Linked DNA regions of Homo sapiens: region 2 is linked to region 1. Evidence: fine-mapped expression QTL. Tissue or cell type: whole blood. Region 1 holds a variant in brackets; the other region holds the start of a gene. All regions are shown on one strand. Distances are between the middles of the regions.

Evidence for each region. PIP is the estimated chance that this variant, and not a neighbour inherited with it, causes the effect.
Region 2: it holds the start of USB1, and the variant in region 1 is fine-mapped to the expression of USB1 in whole blood (TOPMed, PIP above 0.99).

The regions. Positions count from the first base shown.
Region 1 is chr16:57,890,316-57,898,315 of GRCh38, reverse strand. It overlaps CNGB1 (cyclic nucleotide gated channel subunit beta 1), which reads left to right. Exons shown (of 33, transcript NM_001297.5): 30 at 402-520; 31 at 773-919. Among named protein-coding and RNA genes, the nearest start is that of CNGB1, 77 kb to the left of the region's middle. The variant G/T (reference allele first, on the strand shown) is at 4,466.
Region 2 is chr16:57,997,611-58,005,610 of GRCh38, reverse strand. USB1 (U6 snRNA biogenesis phosphodiesterase 1) reads right to left here and starts at 4,204. Exons shown (of 7, transcript NM_024598.4): 1 at 4,030-4,204; 2 at 2,966-3,132. The coding sequence starts at 4,127. ZNF319 (zinc finger protein 319) reads left to right here and starts at 4,939. Exons shown (of 2, transcript NM_020807.3): 1 at 4,939-6,118; 2 at 7,089-8,000. The coding sequence starts at 7,346. RefSeq lists enhancers at 3,966-4,065, 4,092-4,386, 4,559-4,728, 5,586-5,855 and silencers at 4,146-4,395, 4,686-5,285, 5,336-5,465.

The DNA of each region.
Region 1 (8,000 bases):
TGAGATGTGCCAGGTGTAGACATCATTTGATGGTGGGAGCTGCTATCTGATTTGCCCTGCCTCCATCAGTGAGTCTAACTGGAATTTGCAGAATTCCATTATACCTGCACCTCCCAGGTTAGCTGGCACTTCCCATTCCATGACATCACTAACTCCCCCACTGCAACCCTGTCAGTTATGGAGGGCATGGGGTAGTCACTCCTCCAAGTCTACAGATGGGGTGACTGAGGCCTGAGAGGGAAGTGACTGCCCCCACACGACACCCCAAGTTGTGGTGGCAGGGCTGGACCCCAGTGCCTAGGTTCCTCCTTGCCGGACCTCCAGCCTCTGGATCCAGCCCTGGCTGCTTCTCTGGTGACTTTGGGGGATGAACAGAGGGACTTGTCACTTCTTTGTTTCAGGGGGAGATCGGCCGTGAGATGTACATCATCCAGGCAGGGCAAGTGCAGGTCTTGGGCGGCCCTGATGGGAAATCTGTGCTGGTGACGCTGAAAGCTGGATCTGTGTTTGGAGAAATAAGGTCAGACGCAGCTGGGGTAAAGTGAGGGGCCTGGGGCAAGGGCTGGGAAAGAAGGCGGCCAGCGGGCAGTGCGAGTGTCTACGGCTTGGTAGATGCAGCACTGGCACCTGCTGATGTATGCGGGGATGGGGGCGGGGGAAGGTTCTCATCTGTGTGGGGCCACCACTGTCCTCCACACATGGGAAATGAAGATCTGAATGTGACCGAAACGGCAGTCTCTGAAGGGCCTCCTTCCTCCCTTCTCTGCCCCAGCTTGCTGGCTGTTGGGGGCGGGAACCGGCGCACGGCCAACGTGGTGGCGCACGGGTTTACCAACCTCTTCATCCTGGATAAGAAGGACCTGAATGAGATTTTGGTGCATTATCCTGAGTCTCAGAAGTTACTCCGGAAGAAAGCCAGGTATGTAACTTTTCTTTCGTTTAATAAAAAATTGCTAAGGACAATGAATTTCTCTTACATAACCACAGTACCTTTATCTTTTTTTTTTTTTTTTTGAGATGACATCTTGCTCTGTCACCCAGTCTGGAGTGCAGTGGAGTGATCATGACTCACTACAGTCTCAACCTCCTAGGTTCAAGTGATCCTCCTGCCTCAGCCTCCCATGTAGCTGGGACTATAGGCACGTACCACCATTCCCAGCTAATTTTTAAAATTTTTTTCTAGAGCTGGGGTCTCACTATGTTGCCTAGGCTGGTATCAAACTCCTGGGCTCACATGATCTGCTCTGACCTCCCAAAGTGCTGGGGTTACAGGTGTGAGCCACTGCGCCTGGCCTAGTACCTTCATTAAAATAAGGAAATTTCGTATTGAAACAACACTATTATCTCATTCACAATCCATCTTCAGATTTTGCTAATTCTTTAAGAGTATCCTTTGTACCTTTTCTTCTTTTCCATTCCTGAATCAGGTCTAGGATCACATATTGTAATTAAGGTGCAGAGTATTCTTAGTCTTCCTTGATCTGGGATAGTTCCTCAGGCTTTTCCAACCTTTAGTGACTTGGACTTCTTTTAAGCATATAGGCCAGTTATTTTATTTATTTATTTATTTATTTATTTATTTATTTATTTATTTATTTATTTTGAGACAGAGTCTTGCTCTGTCGCCCAGGCTGGAGTGCCGTGGCACAATCTTGGCTCACTGCAACCTCTGCCTCCTGGATTCAAGCAATTCTCCTGCCTCAGCCTCCTGAGTAGCTGGGATTACAGGTGCACACCACCACGCCCGGCTAATTTTTGTATTTTTAGTAGAGACGGGGTTTCACCATGTTGGTCAGGCTGGTCTCAAACTCCTGACATCGTGATCCACCCCCCTCGGCCTCCCAAAGTGCTGGGATTACAGGCGTGAGCCATTGCACCCAGCCCATACAGGCCAGTTATTTTACAGAATGCCCCTCAGTTGGGGTTTGTCTGATGTTTTCTCGTGATTACCATTAGAGTGTGCATTTTTGGCAGGAAGAACTCAGAAGTGAGTCGCTTCTGCAGCAAATGTATCGAGAGGCGCACGATGCCATTTACTCCCAATATCGATGATTTTTACTTTGATTACTTGGTTAAGGTTTCTGTATTGTAAACCTATTTTCCCTTAAACCTAATTCCTAAGTAATTAGTGGGTAGTCACCTTCAGACTATGAGGATATCCTGTTCCCTGTCAAACTTTTACCCACTGCTTTTAGCATCCTTTGATGGTTCCTCCCTATGATAGTTACAAAGAGATTGCTATGATAGTTGTAAAATGGAAATTTTGTAACTCCACTCCCTCCTTGATTATTAGCTGGCAGTCAGCTGTGTGGAAGAGCTTTCTCTTCTCTCCCATTTGTTTATTCATTTCTCAATGTATATAGGCATGGATTTACTTGATTCCATGAATACTCTGTTAACAATCATTATTTTGATGCTCAAATTAGTCCAGTTTGGCCAGTGGGCACTTTTTCAAGGTGGCTCATTTGTGACCTTCGTGATATCCCTGTCATATTTTAGCACTTCCTTGCTTACTCAAGGAGCAGTAAGCCACAACCAGATGCCCTGGTTCATCTTGTACTTCCCTTGCAGTATCCTGGAAATGGCCATTTCTCCAAGGAGCCTTGATTCCTTTTACTGGGGGATGGTTTTTAGAAACCACGATCTGAGTCCTAGGAGCAGTCATTGCTACTGGAGTGCTACTAGGCCTCTGCAGCAGACAGAACCAAGAAACACACCCACATACACACCAAGATGTATAAGTACAAATATATATATATATATAAAAAATACATATATAATATATTATGTATATATAAAATACATACACACACATATACATGTATATGCCAACTTAAATTTTTCTGTCTATTCTACTGATTATCTATAAAACAATTTCAATCCAGCACCACAGAATTCATTCTTTTTTTTTTTGAGACGGAGTTTCACTCTTGTCACCCAGGCTGGAGTGCAGTGGCGCCATCTCAGCTCACTGCAACCTCTGCTGGAATTACAGGCATGTGCCACCACACCTGGCTAATTTTTGTATTTTCAGCAGAGATGGGGTTTCACCATGTTGGCTAGACTGGTCTCAAACTCCTGACCTCAGGTGATCTGCCTGCCTTGGCTTCCCAGAGTTGCTGGGATTACAGGTGTGAGCCACCGTGCCCTGCCACCACATATTAGAATTCATTCTAATATTCTCCCTTTTCATACTTGTAAATCTCTTCTCCAACACTGAGCAATACAGGGAAGTTCATTTCAGAATTTCCAGCCCATGTCACTGTAAAAACAAAAAGTAAGGCTTCTAGGTAGAGTTCAGTACTGGATGCAGTTCTTTTGTGTTTAGCCCGAGTATATATGATGGAAGTGTTACGTTCAAAGTTATCTGGAGTCGTTCTCTTCCTCCACTACCCTTTAATGTGGTTACTTTATTCATTTGAAATACAGGTAGGTTCACTTGTTTCAGTTTACATTCCATTTAGGGCTCCTGCCACCCTGATCTTTGTTGACTTTTTCTTGTTTTCAGTATGTAGAACATTAACATGTTCCTGAAGGTCAACACTCTGCAAAATGGGGCACTCAGAAAAGCGTCCCAACTCTCCCTGTCCCCATTGCCCCCTGACTGCAACTCCCATTATTACGTGGCTCGTTGCATCAATTTCTGCCTTTTCTTTCCTCTGCTTACTTTTGCGAAAATGGACAAGTCCACAGACATTTTCTTTTTTTCTTTTTTGAGATGAAGTCTCATTCTGTAGCCTGGGCTGGAGTGCAGTGGTTAGGTCTTGGCTCACTGCAACCTCCACCTCCCGGGTTCAGGTGATTCTCCTGCCTCAGCCTCCTGAGTAGCTGGGATTACAGGCATCTGCCACCATTCCCAGCTAATTTTTGTATTTTTAGTAGAGATGGGGCTTTGCCACGTTGGCCAGGCTTGTCTCGAACTTCTCACCTCAGGTGATCTGCCCGCTTCTGCCTCCCAAAATTCTGGGATTACAGGTGTGAGCCACCACACCCAGCCCAAACATTTTCTTATTTCTTCTTCTTTCTTACACAAAATATGGCATGCTGTAGATTCTTGTACTTTGCTTTGTTTCCACATGACGACAAAACCCGGAAATCATTGTCTATCAGTGCAGAGTCAGCTTCCTCATTCCTTTCCACAGTGGCAGAACATTCCTGTAAATGGACATTTAGGGTATTTCCACAATTTTGCAATTACAAACAGTGGTGCAACGAATAACCGTGTGCATCCGTATTTTGCATTGTTGGGGAACAGGTCATTCTTTTTAGAAAAGCCGGTTTTTGTTTTCAAACCCTTAAGATCAGGTTTCAAATTGAGCGACAGGCAACGTAGTGTGTCAGGAACCCCACAATAGGTCTGGGAGGCTGGCGGGGCTCAGATCCCTTCCATGTGAGGTGCTGGCTGTGTGACTTTGAGGAAGTTGTTTAACTTTTCTGGTCTCAGTTGTCTCCTATGTAAAATAAA[G/T]GTCATAACCCCTACTTTGCTGCTGTAAATTTTTTTTGTTTTTTTGAGATGGAGTCTTGCTTTGTCGCCAAGGCTGGAGTGCAGTGGCGCAATCCTGGCTCACTGTAACCTCTGCCTCCTGGGTTCAAACAATTCGATTCTCCTGCCTCAGCCACCCCAATAGCTGGGACTACTGCAGGCACATGCCACCACACCCGGCTAATTTTTGTATTTTAAGTAGAGACGGGGTTTCACCATGTTGACCAGGCTGGTCTGGGACTTCTGACCTCAGGCGATCTGCCCGCCTTGGCCTCCCAAAGTGCTGGGATTACAGGTGTGAGCCACTGTGCCTGGCCTGCTGCTGTGAAAATTAAATAGTGTGCAGGAATGTCTCCGGTGGGGTGCCTGTCATACAAGAGAGCTCAGTGCATGTTAATAAGGATCACTTCAGGCCGGGCGCAATGCTGCATGATTGTAATCCCAGCACTTTAGGAGGCTGAGGCGGGAGGATCATTTCAGCCCAAATATTTAAGGTTACAGTGAGTTATGATCGTGCCACTGCACTCCAGCCTGGGTGACAGAGCAAGACCCTGTCTCTCAGATAAATAAGCAATTGTTCCTCTGTAGCCATCAAATTCACCCTATAATTTTTCAGTTGGGTAAAACCTTTTTAATCCACATATCTGGGTTTTCCTCCTTGTCTTGTATCACACATTCTTATTTTCCCCTTCATTCTATACAATGACACCATAAATAAACTGCACAGAGAGCTGTCATAATAGAGGGAAGAAACTCACCAGCATCCATTCCTACAGCACAGTGATGTATCGAGTACACAGTGCTGAGTTCTGGGGACACAGGAGGGACCAAACAAAACTCACATTCTAGTCAGGGAACCGGCAATGGAAAGATGAGCGATGATGTGATGCGTCTGGCTACGAGGAAACACAAAGCCACGGGAGGAGCGGGAAGTGACGGAGAGCTGTCTGAGATAAGCTGGTTGGGGAAGCTGCTCTGAGCAGGTGGCATTTCAACGAGACCTGCACAAAGCAAAGGAGTGAGCTGGGGGACTGATGGCTGGGTACAGCATTCTGGGAAGAGGGAACAGCATGTGCAGAGGCCCTGGGGAGGAGCAGGCTTAGTGTGTGGGTGGCACAACAGCAAGAAAATTAGCATAGCTTGGTATGGGATCAGAGGAGTCTAGGGGAAGAGATTGGGTCAGACCTCAGAGGAAGATGGGAGCCATGGAGAGTTTTACACAGAGGAGTGACTTGAAGTGCCTTAGGTTTTCACAGGAGCCCTTTGGCAGCTTCGAGGTAAAAGGATGTAGTGTTGATGTCCAAGCATCATGCACACAAGACACTGAGGTCCCCTGGGGAAGGAAGCTGCCCCCAAACTCACCTTACCTGGTTGCTCTCAAGGGACCCACTGGACCCTTCCAAAACCCAGTCTATCTGAATTTCTCCCAGAAAATCTCCCCACGTTCCCCACCACATCAGTGGTGCGTGCCAGTGCCTCCTCTCCCCAGGGACAGGGAGGTAGAGTGGACCCTTGTGATTCATGGACTCCATATTTGCAAATTCGCCTCCTCACTGAAATGGACTTGCAACGCCAAGATCAATACTAACAGGCTTTTGTGGTCATTCAAGGACATGCCCAGAGCAGCAAAATACTTGAGTCACCCCAAGTGCACGCTCCCCGCTGAAGTCCCTGTTCTGTCTTGTGGTTTTAGCTCTTGTACTGCGAAGAGGTGTCTTTTTATGGTCCATTTAATGCTACTCTTTTTTTTTTTTTTTTTTGCATTTTTGTGCTTTTTGTTGGCGATTGCACTGTTTAAAATGGCCCCCCAGCATAGTGCTGAAGTGCCGTCTCATGTTCCTAAGCACAAGAAGTCTGCAATGTGCCTTACACAGAAAATATGTGTTAGATAAGCTTCATTCAGGCATGAATTACAGTGCTGTTGGCTGTGCGTTCAATGTTAATAAAACAATAATCTATATTTAATAAGATGTCTTTAGCCGGCACAGTGGCTCATGCCTGTAATCCCAGCACTTTGGGAGGCTGAGGTGGGTGGATCACCTGAGGTCAGGAGTTCAGGATCAGCCTGGCCAACATGGTGAAACCCCATCTCTACTAAAAATACAAAAATTAGCCAGGCGTGGTCATGGGCACCTATCATCCCAGCTACCCGGGAGGCTGAGGCAGGAGAATGGCTTGACCCTGGGAGGCAGAGGTTGCAGTGAGCCAAGATCACACCACTGTAATGCAGCCTGGGCAACAAAGTGAGACTCTGTCTCAAAATAATAATAATAATAATGTCTTTAAAAAGAAACACACATAAGACAAGTTTATTATTATTAATTTTAGAGACAGGGTCGTGCTCTTTCACCCAGGCTGGAGTGCAGTGACACGATCATAGCTCACTGCAGCCTCGAACTCCTGGGCTCAAGAAATCTCCCGCCTTGGCCTCCCAGTGTTCTGGGACTGTGTGTGAACCACCACGCCTGGCCAAGTTCATGTATTATGGTTGATGAATGTTGTGATGGGAGATTTGTAGGAATCTAGCCTTGTATTTCCCCTAGGAACAATGTTTCCATTTTTGCTAATTCAGTGTCCGCAGAGATCTTATAGGACATAATTACTACAAATCATGAGATTCAACTGCTTATGACTGAAAACTGGTACCAGGTCTCCCCACCCTCTCTTCTTGCCCCCACCCCCACCAGGAGGAGCAAAGCTCAGGAAAGCCATGCTTTTAGCTGTTACCCATCCTGCTGGGTGGGTTAGGCAAGAGTTTGGCAAATCAGATGGGACCCCAAAGGCACCTCCCAAGAGCTGTGCAGAGGCCCCCATTCCTGACAGTGCCTGTGCACCTGTGTCCACACTGAGAAGGCTGAGGTGTGGGTGGGAGGCAGCCAGGCGAAGGAATGGGGCTAACAGGCCTCACAGCAACATGGGGGGGCGTGGGAATGGGGGTCTCAGCCATGAGTCATCAGAGTGGTTGTTTGCTGGCCAGGCCAGCTTGACCAGAGAGGCAGGGGATTGTGTATGAGCTCTGCTCATCAGGGGAGATACACTGTCTGAGAACCATAGTCCCGGGGACATCTGAGTTGGTGAGGGCCACGTGTGGGATTCTGTCCAAGCTCCCTGCTTTGCAGATGGGGGACCTGGGTCCCCAAAGAAGTGAAGTGCTGAGATCTCCGGCTTGACCACTCCAAAAAAGAGGATGAAGAGGTCTTATGTGGGTCACTTGCTCCAGGCTGATTGCTCAATCTCAGTTACAGGGAAGCATACATCATCAGAAAATGAGGACAAATTTCCCTAATCTGGAAATGCCCCAGAAGCTAGCTCAATGTTTCCAAACAGAGACAGCTAGTAGCAATCAGCAAAGGTCCTATACATAGTTATTTTGTTAGAAAGAAAAAGATAGTTCATTTTCACAGCACCCTCAGCCTTCCTGTGGGCTGTCACATCATGAATTATGGACTCAAATAACATGGGGGACAGTGCCGAGCTGGCGCGTGTCAGAGGCGTCTGGTGAATTATCATGTTTGTG
Region 2 (8,000 bases), 110 kb before region 1:
AATCATTAGTTTGTAGCAATTACTCTTTATTCCAATATATAATAATCCTCGCTCTATAATCATAACCTAGGAAAAACCAGGCCATACAGAGATAGGAGCTGAGGGGACATAGTGAGAAGTGACCAGAAGACAAGAGTGCGAGCCCTCTGTCATGCCCGGACAGGGCCACCAGAGGGCTCCTTGGTCTAGCAGTAATGCCAGCGTCTGGGAAGATGCCCATTGCCAAGTGGACCGTGGTCTAACGGTAGCGTCAGTGCCAAGGGAAAACACCCGCTACTTAGCAGACCGGGAAAGGGAGTCTCCCTTTCCCCAGGGGAGTTTAGAGAAGACTCTGCTCCTCCACCTCTTGTGGAGGGCCTAACATCAGTTAGGCCCGCCCGCAGTTATCTGGAGGCCTAACCATCTCCCTGTGATGCTGTGCTTCAGTGGTCATGCTCCTAGTCTGCCTTCACACCTGTACACCTGGCTCTGCCTTTTAGCTAGCAGTAGCAAAATTAGTGAAAGTACTAAAAGTCTCTGATATGCAGAAATAATGGTGTAAGCTGTCCTCTCTCTCTCCCTCTCTCTCTCTGCCTCAGCTGCCAGGCAGGCAAGGGCCCCCGTCCAAGTGGCGTGACTCACGTAACCTTGTCAATCATTGGAGATGGCTCACACTCCTTACCCTGACCCTTTGTCTTGTATCCAATAAATATCAGCGCAGCCTGGCATTCGAGGCCACTACCGGTCTCCGCGTCTTGGTAGTAGTGGTCCCCCGGGCCCAGCTGTCTTTTCTCTTATCTCTTTGTCTTGTGTCTTTATTTCTACAATCTCTCGTCTCCGCACACAGGGAGAAAACCCACCGACCCAGTGGGGCTGGACCCTACAAGATATTCTATGTTTATAGACAGAAAGATTCAATATTGTAAAGATGTCAGTTCTTCCCAATTTGATCTACAGATTCAATACAATCCCAGTCAAAATCTCAGCAAGTTATTTTGTGATACTGACAAACGGATTCTAAGGTGTACATGGAGAGGTAAAAAACCAAAACAGGCCAAGTGCTGTGGCTCATCCCTGTAATCCAAGCACTTTGGGAGGCTGAGGCCAGAGGATTGCTTGAGCCCAGGAATTCAAGACCAGCTTGGGCAATATAGTGAGACCCTATCTCTAAAAAAAACCAAAAAAAGCCCCCAAAAAACCCAGAATAGTCAACACACTACTGAAGGAGAAGAACAAAGTTGGAGGACTGAAACTACCCAACTTCGAGACTTAACTATGTAAAGTTACAGCAATCAAAACAGTTCACCAATGGTATTGGTGAACAAATAGATGAATGGAACAGAATTGAGAACCCAGAAATAGACCCACATCAATACAGTCAACCGATCTTTGGCAAAGGAGCAAAAGCAATACAATGTGAAAAAGAGAGTCTTTTCAACCAATGGTGCTGGAATAACTGGATATCCATATATAAGAAAAGGAATCTAGACACAGACCTTCCACCTTTCACAAAAATTAACTCAAAATGGACACAGAACTAAATGTAAAATGCAAAACTGTAAGATTCCTGAAAGATAACATAGGAGAAAAATGTAGATGATCTTGGGTTTGGTGACAACTTTTTAGATATGACACCAAAGGCAAGATCCATGAAAGAAATAATTGATAAGCTGGACTTCATTAAACTTAAAAACTTCTGCTCTGTGAAGGACAACGTCAAGAGAATGAAAAGACAAGCGACTGGCTGGGAAAAAAATGTATTTGCAAAAGACGTATCTGATAAAGGACTATTATTTCAAATATAAAGAACTCTTAAAACTCAATATTTTAAGATCCAATATTAGACCCACATCATAATATTAAATAAACAAAAATGATTAAAATTTATTAATAAACAAAAATGATTAATATTAATAAACAAAAATGATTAAAAAGTGGGCAAAAGACCTTAACAGACACCTCACTGAGGAAGATACACAGATGGCAAAAAGCATTGAAAAGATGATCTGGATCATATGTCATCAGGGAAATGCAAATTAACAGACAACAGTGACATATTGCTACACACCTATTAGAATGGCTAAACTCCAGAACACTGTCAATACCAAATGCAACTCCTTTGGGCAAAAACCAAGGAATGTAATTGCTGGATTTTATGATAAGAGTATGTTTAGTTTTGTAAGAAGCCACCAAACTGTCTTATTTGAGATGGAGTCTCACTCTGTCACCCAGGCTGGAGTGCAGTGGAGCGATCTTGGCACACCACAGTCTCTACCTCCCAGGGTCAGTCAATCCGCCTACCTCAGCCTCTCAAGTAGTGGGAACCATAGGCGTGTGCCACCACACCTGGCTAATTTTTTTGTATTTTTGGTAGAAACAGGGTTTCTACCTGTTGCCGAGGCTGGTCTCAAACACCTGGGCTCAAGTGATCTGCCTGCCTCCGCTTCCCAAAGTGCTGGGACTATAGGTGTGAGCCACCTGGCCTAGCCAGTGCTACCCCCATTTTAGATTTGAAGAAACTGAAGCTCTGAGAAGTCTAGTATCTTATAAAGGGCACCCAGAGTAGTGGGCAGCGGAGTGAGGTCTGACTCTGAAGCCTGGGCATTTTTTGTCTTCCACCTGCTGATCAGAGCTAGGGTGGGATTTGAACCTTGCACACCCAGCGTACCCAGGGCCCTCTCAGAAATAAAGTGCCTGGCATGACCTTGACACCCTGCTCCAGATTCTCCTTTGGTCACCTCCTCGTGAACAGGGAGAATATTATACCCAGAGGTAATACACATTTTAGGCTACGAATTCAAAACCAAGATGACAGAAAAATCCCCAGTTCTTGAAACCTGCTCTTTCTCTGCTAAGTCAATGACTTTCCCACCACCAGTGTTAGAGGTTTCTGGTTTCTTCCTTCTAGTTGGGGCCAGATTCTGCCCTTCATGAGGCACCTACGGGTCTATGGGTCTTGGCAACTTGCCTTTCACACATCACTCACATGGTACATAGACGTGGGTGGCCCAGTTGCCTCGCTCGTGGGGGAAGGTGCGCACCCGTCCCCCGTGTTTTGTGCTGTCATCTTCAGGCCCCTCCTCGGTGCCCGGGAACATGTTCAGCACACTGTCAGGTACTGGAAATCTCTGCCTGGGAAGGGGGCTCTGGCCACTGCAAAAGAAAAAAAGAAAAATGAGTACATTTATCCTGTTAGCATTCTCTACCTTTGTATATACCACAAAAGTTGTAACCCCTTATATATGGTGGCTCTGAGTGTGTGTTTCCAGCCTGGTGCTGGAAGCAGCTTCTAGATAGCGAAATTGTTTCTCCAGTATTGTCTCATTGGGGTCTCCAACTCTGGGGCACAAGGTCCCCATGGGAAACAACAGGGCATGCAACAATGTGGTTCAGGGGTCACATTTCCAAGCTGGACAGGCTGCAGCTGGAGTAGCACTTTCTAGCTCTATGACCTTGGGCAAGTCATGTCCCCTTTCTGGGCCTCAAATGCCTCATCTGAAAGTATATGTCTACCTGATAGAGCAATTGTGGGATCAACTGAGCTACTGCTTGTAAAGCACTCAGCAAAGATAAGGCCTAGCATTTAAGAATCTAAGCCCCAGGAAGTAAGGCCGACGGTTTTGTTCACCACTGAATTACCAGACCCCAGCCTGGCAGGGAGTGGGTGCTCAGTGAATATTTACTGGATGAATGAAAAGGCTCTCCCTACGCTTTAGCAAGTATTACTATCGCAATTGTATTCAAATCAGGAAACGGACCTAGGATGGTACAGGGATGTGTGCCAGGCGATAGAGTGGGCCAGCGCGAGGCTGGACCCGAACCCAGGTCTGGCCTCCCAACTTGGCCCTAGCCAGGTGGGGCCACTCTGGAGCTTTGTCTGGGGTGGGGGGGAGGGGTATATCTTCTGGATCCTCCTTTCTTCCTGCGTCCCCTTTTCCTTCCCAGAGCCGCCCCGCATCCTCCCTCCCCACTCCACCCCCAGACATTCGGGTCCCGTCTGGCTCTAGGGTGAATGCGCGCGCCCTCCGGAGAGACTTCCTCACTCCTCACCGACGGTGGCTCCCATCCCCCGGCCTGGTCCGCATCCCGTCCTCGGACTCATCCTCGGAGCCGCTGCTGCTGTAGCCCACCAGGGGCGCCGCGCTCATGGGGCCTCATCCAAGACCACCAGAGCAGGTCCACCAGCAACCTCAACCGGCACCCGGAGTTCCGCTGTGCCGGAAGCGCCCTCCCAGGGGCGGGGCCTGGGCTGGCACCGCCTCGGGGCGGAGCCGGGAGGGGCGGAACCCGGCAGGACAGTGGTGAAGATTCAGCCCACCGACTCCAAGCTGTCTGCCGGCTGCGCACGCGGATCTGGTCACCTGCAGCCTCCCGGCACCCCGCTGGGACCTCCCCAGCCTTCGTGTACCCATTTCATATATCGCTCAGGGCCCTCACCTTTCTGCCCGCTGCTGTCTGCAGCCACCCGGGACCAGACATACCAGACACGACAGTCCCGGGTCAGCGCACTAGACCCAGCGGAGACCCCTGCCTGCCCCGAGCCCGGCCAGGATCAGAGGTCCTGGAGCCCCCTCCTCAAACCAGCCCAAAGTCCAAGCCCCTAAAAGCCAAGCTGAGCAGTTAGGGGCGGATCAATTGTGGCAGACCAGAGCCTCTAGGAGGCCCCTCCTCTCCTGCGCAGAGCCGGGCCGAGGGCGGTCACCCGGAGCCCCCTCCCCTAAGCCCGAGCGGGGTGGCCGGAAGCAGAGCGCCCTTCCTCGGTTAGTCGAGGCGCCCAGGCCTGGCGACTCGAAAACCGCCCGGAGCACCCGGCTTGTCCGACCTGGCCCGGCCACGGGGTCCCCGGCAGGGGGCGGCCTCGCTCCGCGCCGCCCGCTCCTCCCGCATTGGCCGCCGCCGCCCGGGATGCCGCTCCTCCCCCGGCCCCGCCTCCCTGGCCCCCGCGCCGCCCGCCCGTCCGCCCGTCTCCGCAAGGCCATCGGTCCGTCCGCCCGCCCTCCCGGCGCTCCTCGCCCCGGCCCCGCTACTCCGGCAGCGCGCGTCGCTTCCTCCGTTCCGGCCGCCGCTAGCCCGTCCCCCGCCCCCGGTCCGGCCGCAGCCGCTACGCGAGGCCGGGGATTGGCAGCGCGCGTAGGCCGCGCCGCCGCGGATGGAGCCGGAATAAAGGGGCGGCCGAGAGAGCAGCTGGTCGCCGCTCGCCCCGCGCCTGCCCTGCAGGCGGCCTGGAGCAGGTGAGCGGCGGGGCGCCCGGGGCCGCATCTGGGGGCCACCCCCGCGCCCGCCGCACCCCTTCCTCTGCCGGCCCGGCCGCCCCCCCGCGCCCCTCCGCCGCGACCTAGCGGCCTCTTGAGCTTCTGGGCGGCCCAGGCCGGGCCTCGAGGCGCAGCCGCTTCCTGGGCCCGGCCTGTAGCCCTGGGGCCTTTCTCCAGCCCGGCCGCCCTCGGGGCTCGCCCTCGGGTCGCAGCGGCCGGGCCATCCCGGACGAGGGCTGACAGGACGCAGCCCAGCTGGGCCTGCAGGCAGGGCCGGCGGGAGGTGATCGGCTTTCATTCGGTTTCTCAGGGAGGAAGAAGAGACGGGGTGGGGCGCAGGTGGGGGGCCTCCCCTGCCTCTCCTTGCCTCCTCTCTCCCCTTTGCGGAGTGATCACAGAGGCTTCCTGGCTGCACCTTGCTGCAGGAGGGCCAGGGTGGGCAGGGGGTGCTGCAGACCAAGCCAGGGGACACTGTCTGACAGCCATTCATGCCAGAAAAAGCAAACAAAACAGTGGGTTGGCACAGCGGACCTACAGGCGCTCAGAGAAGCCCACCTTCCCCCTCTCTGTCCCGAGAAGGCTTAGAGTGGTACCTGCTTGCTCAAGCAACCTGCTGCCTCCACCCAGAGCAGCCGCTCCTCTCCTCCCTCCCTTCCGGAAGATGCTGAGGATGACAGCTTTTAGCCTGACTCTTACATTTCTTTGGCAGAGCAGTTAGAGGCCAGACTGTCCTGTGAAGGCTTCTCCTTCCTTCTTCCTCTGCTCAGGAGAAAACTTACAAACTTTTAAATGTAAGAGGCAGATGAGCTGGGAACCTGGAAGTGGGTTGCATCTGACTCTGAAAGTTCCTCCCTCTCGCTGGCATTACCTCATGCTGCCACAAAGTGGTGAGTTAGAGATTTGCCTGGGCTGGGTGGGCTTTACCTTCCAACAATTACCCAGAACTTTATAGGCTTGGAGTAAGGGAATGGAGTTGTCTCTAGAGAGGTGATGAGAAATGCTCTGTGGTTAGCATGCTGCATCCTGCATTGCCAAGGCAGACCAGGGCAGTTTCTTACATTTTCCTGCAGGCCTTGACACTATGAGATTCAGAGGATTTAGGACTTTGTGTGTGTGTGTGTGTGTGTGTGTGTGTGTGTGAGTTCTGGGAGAGAACCAGAGTGAGGAAGTTCTGCTGTGTGGACATCAAGCCTGGGTGGTTCTGTGGCCCTCTCATCTAGCCCCCATCACCTATGGGCTCTGGTTCCTGTAGGGCCACCCATCCTGTCACGCGGAGAGAGAATGGGCCTGTGGTCAGGGATAGTTGAAGGGGTGTGGTCAGTCCCTCATAGGTGAGAGTTTTTGAAATGGTCCTTGGTTCCACGTAGTTGTCCTAAATATTGACTGTCAGAGGCCATTTGCCACTGGGCTCTCAGACCTGGGAGGTCTGGCCTCCTTAGCTCTAAGTGGTGTGGCCCGTATTAAGACTCAGGGTAGCAACAGGAGAGGAGCTGCGGGCCTTAAGGAGGATTCTGTATTGTAGGCAGATAACCCCGGACTCTCACCTGTGAGTCTCAGCTAAAGGGTTGGCAGGAAGCTGGAGGGGACTTGTGGAGGCTGGGATGTCCTGGCCCAGGGGCGGGGCACTGAGGTGGGTGGGGGTGGAGGCCGCTGCCATTTCCTCTGCCTGGAGGAGCTGAGCTGGCTGCAGACCTCTCTGATTGCCTAAGAAGGGAGGAGTCCTGCAGCCCTGAGCACCTCTGCCTTCCCCGATGTGTGGTTTGTGATGGTGTGGTGAGTGCGGGCAGGACAGGGAGAAGGCCCAGGAAACTGCTGCTTGTTCCTTCCTCGAGCTCATACTTTCTCTCTTCTCTACAGAACGGATCACTGGGGAAGGCAGAGTCTCCCCGGCACTGCTGGGACCCTCCCTTGAAGAGCCCCCATGTCCTGTAGGCAGAGCCTTGTAGTCTGTCCGCTTGGTTACTGACTCGGGCTGTCTGACCAGCCCCTCTTCTGTGCCTTGTCTGAGGTCCTTGTCCATCTCTGTGATTGGGCAGCTTCTCTCTCTGGATTGGGTCACGTGAAGCGGGAAACTGAAGCCATTACTCTCCAAACCCTGTTTCATCTTCCCAAGCATGTCGGAAAGCTGGCAACAGCCGCCACAGACGCAGCCGCAGCAGCCACAGCCACCGCAGCCTCAGCACCATGCAGAGCCACCGCCAGCCCTGGCAGAGCACACGCTGCCTCCGGGCACGGCGGAGAACCCCCTGGGCTGTGCCGTCTATGGCATCCTCCTGCAGCCAGACCCCGGCCTGCAGCCCCCACAACACGCACCCCTGCAGGCAGCAGGAGAGCCAGGCCCCAAATGTGGCGTGTGTGGTCACGACCTGGCGCACCTGTCCAGTCCGCATGAGCACCAGTGTCTGGCGGGCCATGACCGCTCATTCCAGTGCACACAGTGTCTCAAGATCTTCCACCAGGCCACTGACCTGCTGGAGCACCAGTGCGTGCAGGCTGAGCAGAAGCCCTTCGTCTGTGGGGTCTGCAAGATGGGCTTCTCACTACTCACCTCACTGGCACAGCACCACAGCTCCCACAGTGGCCTGGTGAAGTGTTCCATCTGTGAAAAGACCTACAAGCCAGCTGAGGCAGCGGAGCCAGCCACCACAGCCGCCCCGTCGCTTCCCGCAGCACCCGCGCCTTCCACTGTCACCCCTGCTGAACAGGCCGACAAGCCCTACAGCTGCCCCATCTGCCAAAAGCCCTTCAAGCACCTGTCGGAGCTCTCTC